Homo sapiens: one gene and its partner. The protein of the gene in region 1 interacts with the protein of each later gene in a pairwise test. Each region holds a gene or a part of one and is shown in the gene's direction. Other genes may lie near its edges.

The links. Proteins that work in one complex are often made in the same cells at the same time.
Region 2: the proteins of ZBTB32 (region 1) and RHOXF2 interact in binary tests that used the Homo sapiens proteins (3 or more experiments, as listed by UniProt).

The regions. Positions count from the first base shown.
Region 1 is NC_000019.10:35,702,904-35,706,658, forward strand, and holds the start of ZBTB32 (zinc finger and BTB domain-containing protein 32), read left to right. Parts: upstream 1-1,654; 5' UTR 1,655-1,720; intron 1,721-3,755. UniProt on the Homo sapiens protein: DNA-binding protein that binds to the to a 5'-TGTACAGTGT-3' core sequence. May function as a transcriptional transactivator and transcriptional repressor. Probably exerts its repressor effect by preventing GATA3 from binding to DNA.
Region 2 is NC_000023.11:120,163,868-120,166,281, forward strand, and holds the end of RHOXF2 (rhox homeobox family member 2), read left to right. Parts: 3' UTR 1-1,763; downstream 1,764-2,414. UniProt on the Homo sapiens protein: Transcription factor maybe involved in reproductive processes. Modulates expression of target genes encoding proteins involved in processes relevant to spermatogenesis.

The DNA.
Region 1 (3,755 bases):
GTCTTTCCTGTCCCTGTACACTTCCAGGCTTCCAGGCGAGGCAGAGTGAGCTGTGCCAGCAATCGTGGTGGAGTGGGACAAGAGAGAAAAGGGAGCTGTTCACAGGCACCGAAGCCTGGCTGGCTCTTTTTTTTTTTGAGACGCCGTCTCGCTCTGTCTCCCAGGCTGGAGTGCAGTGGCGCGATATAGGCTCCCTGCAATCTCCGCCTCCCGGGGTTCAAGCGATTCCCCTGCCTCAGCCTGCCGAGTAGCTGGAATTACAGGCGCCCGCCACCACGCTCAGCTAATTTTTGTATTTTTAGTAGAGACGGGGTTTCACCATGTTGGTCATGCTGATCTCGAACTCCTGACCCCAGGTGATCCGCCCTCCTCGGCCTCCCAAAGTGCTGGGTTTTCAGGCGTGAGCCACCGTGCCCTGCCTGGCTGGCTCTTTTATTTTATTTTTATTTATTTATTAGAGACAGGGCCTCACTGTGTCGCCCAGGCTGCAGTGCAGTGGTGTGATCATAGCTCACTGCAGCCTCGACCTCCTGGGCTCAAGCGATCCTACTACCACCTGGACCTCTCAAAGCCCTGGGATTACGGGCATGAGCCACCGTGCCTGGCCTTGGCTTGCTCTTACGGGCCTCCCAGCCAATCAGGTGTGGCGGCAGCCTACACACCCCCTACACACCTCACAGATGGTAAAGGGTTGAGAGAAAGGTGACAGGGTTTGCAAATGGGAGCTACTTAGGGTGGCAAAATAGAAGCAAGAAAGGCAGGTCAGGCACGGTGTCTCACGGCTGTAGTTCCAGAATTTTGGGAGGCCCAGGTGGAAGGATTGCTTGAGCCCAGGAGTTCGAGGCTGCAGTGAGCTATGATTGCACCATTGCACCCCAGCACCGGCAACAGAGGGAGACCCCGTTCATAAAATAAAAATGAAATAATAATTTTTTAAAAAGCCGGGCGTGGTGGCTCACGCCTGTAATCCCAGCACTTTGGGAGGCCGAGGCGAGTGGATCACGAGGTCAGGAGATCGAGACCATCCTGGCTAACATGGTGAAACCCCATCTCTACTAAATGTACAAAAAATTAGCCGGGCGTGATGGCGGGCGCCTGTAGTCCCAGCTACTTGGGAGGCTAAGGCAGGAGAATGGTGTGAGCCCGGGAGTCGGAGCTTGCAGTGAGCAGAGATCGCGCCACTGCACTCCAGCCTGGGCGACAGAGCGAGACTCTGTCTCAAAAAAAAAAAAAAAAAAAAGGACAGTAGTACTCCTGAGCACTTGCTGAGGGAGCCTCCAGGGCTGTTCAGGTGAAGGAGAATCAGGGTCCAGTCTCTTCGTGGAGAGAGTGGGAAAAGGCAGACTCCACAGCAGATCAACGCTGGGGCCCGGCTGGAAATCAATGAAATCTCAGCCTAAGAGGCCTGAAGCCTATGGACCAATGAGACTCAAGGCTCTGCCCCTTCACAGCCAATCAGCTGCGGGTCCGAGGCAGACGCGCGGGAGTGGCGCTGTCCTAGGTGCCTCCCAGGCTGCCCAGCGTGCTCAGCTGGCCTGAGCGGGAGAATGCGGCCCGCGCTGCAGCCAATCAGCGTCCGCCTCAGGATCCAGGGGTGACCACGTGCGGGAGCGTTGCGTCCCTGGCCTCGCTCCATTCCCCACTTTTAACGGTCACTCGGCCTTAAGCCGTCCTGGGTGTATGTGAGGCTGAAAGGGAAGGAGGAACAGGGTCTGGGCCGGTGAGTGCCATAGTTTTTCTTACTTTACTTTCTTGGGCTTGGGCCCGGCCCAGGCAAATCTGGGGTATGGGGGCTTGACTGGACCTCGTTGATGATTGGGAAGTGCGGGTTGAGGGCTTTAGCCCTTGGGGCTTTCCTCTGCCTTTGAGAGGCTGGAAATGCAGCCTCCTGGCCACCTTTAGGCCTAGGTTTGGCAGAGGCTAAGCCAGCTTGCTCTCTGAGTTGGTCCACGGCCCCCGAGGCCAGCCTGAGTAGGAAGGGTGTTGTGGGGAAGTTGGAGGTCCTTAACTCTGCATGAGGTATGGCCTCCGGACAATGAGAGCTTATCAAGGGTCTCTGGACTGAGCCTGGATCCGGTGACTGAAAGGAGAGGCCTGTGGATCTCCAAAGGTTATGCAGGGGCTGGGCGCGGTGGCTCACGCCTGTAATCCCAGCACTTTGGGAGGCTGAGGCAGGTGGATCATTTGAGGTCAGGAGTTTGAGACCAGCCTGGCCAACATGGAGAAACCCTGTCTCTACGGGGTTTCTAAAAAAAATTACCTGGGCGTGGTGGCACACGTCCGTAATCCCAGCTACTCAGAAAGCTGAGGCAGGAGAATCGCTTGAACTCATTGAACTCAGGAGATGAACGTTGCAGTGAGCTGAGATCACGCCATTGCACTCCAGCCTGGGCGACAGAATGAGACCCTGTCTCAAGAAAAAAAATGAAAAGAAAAAAAAAGTTATGTAGGAAGTCACTGGCCAAGAGATGAAACTAGTGTGCACATGAAGGTTTCCTGGGGTCTTTGGAGCCAGCCTGGGCTGGGAGTGAATGTTCTGGACTCCAGGTTGAGATGTTCTTGGCAGATTTCCCAGTATGGAGTCCAGGTTGGATGATGTGGCCAAGAGGTTAGGCCAGTAATCCTCTGGAGATTCTAGGGAGAAGGATTCTGAATCCCAGCCGAGCTGTTTGCGCTGGATGAAGTATTATTGCCTTGTGGTGGCTCTGTACAGAACTGGGATTGGGTGGCCAGGCGTGGTGGCTCACACCTGTAATCCCAGCACTTTGGGAGGCTGAGGTGGGTGGATCACCAGGTCAGGAGCTCGAGACCAGCCTGACCAACATGGTGAAACCCTGTCTCTACTAAAAATACAAAAATTAGCCAGGTGTGGTGGCAGGTGCCTGTAATCCCAGCTACTCAGGAGTCTGAGGCAGGAGAATCCCTTGAACCCACGAGGCGGAGGTTGCAGTGAGCAGAGATCGCACCACTGCACTCCAGCCTGGGCAACAGAGCAATGCTCTGTCTCAAAAAAAAAAAATTAATTAAAAAAAAAAAAAAGCAGGGCCAGGCGTGGGGGCTCACATCTATAATCCCAGCACTTTGAGAGGCCAAGGCGGGCGGATTACCTGAGGTCAGAAGTTTGAGACCAGCATGACCAACATGGAGAAACCCCATCTCTACTAAAAATACAAAATTAGCTGGGCGTGGTGGCACATGCCTGTAATCCCAGCTACTAGGGAGGCTGAGGCAGGAGAATCGCTTGTACCTGGGAGGCGGAGGTTGCGGTGAGCCGAGATCGTGCCATTGCACTCCAGCCTGGGCAACAAGAGCGAAACTCCATCTCAAAAAAAAAAAAAAAACTGGAATTGGGTCATGTCTGGAGCTTTTCATTCTCCCTGTCCCACTCTTTCCCATGCCTGTTCTGATAATTCCTAGAAGATGAAGATATCAGGCTGTAGGTGCGGGGCAGGTGCATGGGGAGGATGAACATCGTAGTGGAGCACAGGAAGAGGTGTGTGAGATATTCTCCTCTTTAGGAAATCACCCAGGTTTTTGGCAGGGCGTGGTGGCTCACACCTGTAATCCTAGCACTTTGGGAGGCCGAGGCAGGTGGATCACCTGAGGTCAGGAGTTCAAGACCAGCCTGGCCAACGTGGTGAAACCCCATCTCTACTAAAAATGCAAAAAATTAGCCGGGCATGGTAGATGCCTGTAATCCCAGCTACTTAGGAGCCTGAGGTAGGAGAATCACTTGAACCCAGGAGGCAGAGGTT
Region 2 (2,414 bases), on another chromosome or scaffold:
TCATCAAATGTCTATTAAACGTTTTAAAGAAAAGTACATCATTGACCCATTTTTAGGGCACTTGTAAAAATGTTTCTATAAATATGTGAAGGGTATGTACATTTGTTTTGTGTGTCACATGGGGTCAGTAAGTTCTCAATAAAAATTGTTAAGAAATGCCATTCAAACCGAATGTCACGGACTCTCGTCTCATGCAGTAATCTTGAGTCACCATCTGGGGGCTGTGCATGTCACAGAATTTTCCCATGTGCCCATGGCAGGCTTACACCGACCCAGACATTCTCTTCCACCCCCACCCCCAACACCCCATACTCATCTCCTCTCTGCCCCCATTGATACCAGGTACATGTGCAGGATGGGGTGGTGTGAGTCCCTAATGAGAGAATAGTGTGTTTCAAGTTACTGCCAGGGTGGAAAACAGCAAAACCAAAATGGTATCGGGAAGGAAGCCATGCCCACTCTTAAAAATTCATTAAGTTTTTTCTTGCTATGGAAGACTTCTTTAAAGTAATTTTCTTGTAAAAGTGTAAGTGTAAATAATGCCATGAAATTATACACTTATTTAATGGCTAAAATGGCAAATTTTTATATGGTTTACCACAACAAAAGAAAAGAAAAAATATACCAAAAAGTTTTTAAAAAGTGATCATGAACATTGTGGTCATCCTGTGAAGTGATTGCAATGCCTGCAGATAAGGAGTGATGGTTACAACAGTATTTTCTCTGAAAATTATTTGATGGCCAGTTTCATAATGATTATGTTTTCAGCCTGAAGGAAAATTCCATTTTCTTGGGTGAGCATGAACTTTCTGTCAGGCTGTCTGCTGCTTTTCATTCCCCACTTCTCTCTTCACAATTGTGGGTGTCAAGCTTCAGCCACGCAATTGCATTTGGTGTGAGGGTTTTGCAAGGAGAAGGAGGTTTATTCATACCCCTGAAGCCACAAGCCTTGGTGGGAATAAGGAAAGTCCATGAATTCACTATGCATTAATGCATGCCTCTTGGCCAAGTGGATTCTTTTTTCTTCTCCGATTGAGATTTTCCTTTTTTTTTTTTTTTTTTTTTTTTGCTCTTGTTCTCATTGTATTGTGCTTTGTATAATTATTTACAGTAAGTCGCGCATGTCAGTGTACATTCCGTCTGGAAATTGTTTCCATTTGGTACATTTTGTGCCAGTCGGTCTATTCCTGCTCATTATTTTGTTTTTTCTACATTCAGACTGAAACATTTGGTAGCCTAGAGATACTCAGAAATAGGCAAAGAAAGGTAAAAGGGGAGGAGGGGAGATTGAAATCATACTTCCATTATCCCTCCCCGTGGTTATCAGATTCATAAAATTTTTACACCATCAAAAGACATTTTTAGCCATATATGTTTCCTTTATGTAGAAAATGAGATCTCCTATACTCAGTTGGCATTTGTTTTCATGTATCTGATAAGTACCTGTTAGAATTATAGGTCAAGATGTTGTCTAGCTCTGGTAACCTAGATCCTGAACTTCAAAGCAGAGTTCTTGGACCTTAAGAAATTCAAATTCGTAGAATTATAGTTAGGATGTCATTTACTGACCTTGAACAACACATTGTTTAGGTAGCATACAATGGGACTAGTTCAAGGGGCTGGGTGGAGAACAAGTTACAATTTTTTCTGATGGAGAACATTACTGGAGACAGTACCCTTTAAAACTTTCATTCCCTTTTTATTAGCAGCTAACGTCTTGTATGCCTTTACTATGTGACAAGCAATAAAATAATGTCCTTGGATGATTTTGTTTGATGCTCAAATGAATCCTAATAGTGAGGTTCTAGCATCTTCATTGAAAGAAGAGGAAACTTATCCATGGTGCAAAGCTAATCAGAGGAACAGGATCTGAAGCCAAATTTGTCTGCCTCCAGAGCCCATGCTTTGTCAAGTTTAATTCAGCGGTGGTGCACTGGGATGCCACAGTTAGGGCAATCTGGCTTCCAATCCCAGATGCACCACTTCCCAGCTGTTTCCCCCTGGGCATTTTACTTAAGCTCTGTAGTATCATTATTATTCTCTATAAGATGATAATATTATATCACAGAATTGATGAGAGGGATAAATAACATATGTAAGTGGCCTTCCACAATGCCCAGCCAGAGTAAGCACACAGAAATGTTTTCTACTATTATTCTATATTATCTCCTATCATCATATTATTATAACCTGTTGTTCCACCTTTCCTATGTGGTATAACAGAAAGAGATCTGATTAAAAATAAGGTGGTCTGGGTTCTTGCTGCAGCTCTACGCTGTCTTTGTTACCTTGAATGAGTCGCTTAACCTACTATATCTCTGCTGTCTCATGTGTTAGGCCATTCTTGTTTTGCTATAAGGAAATGCCTGAGGCTGAGTAATTTATAAAGAAAAGAGGTTTAGTTGGCTCACAGT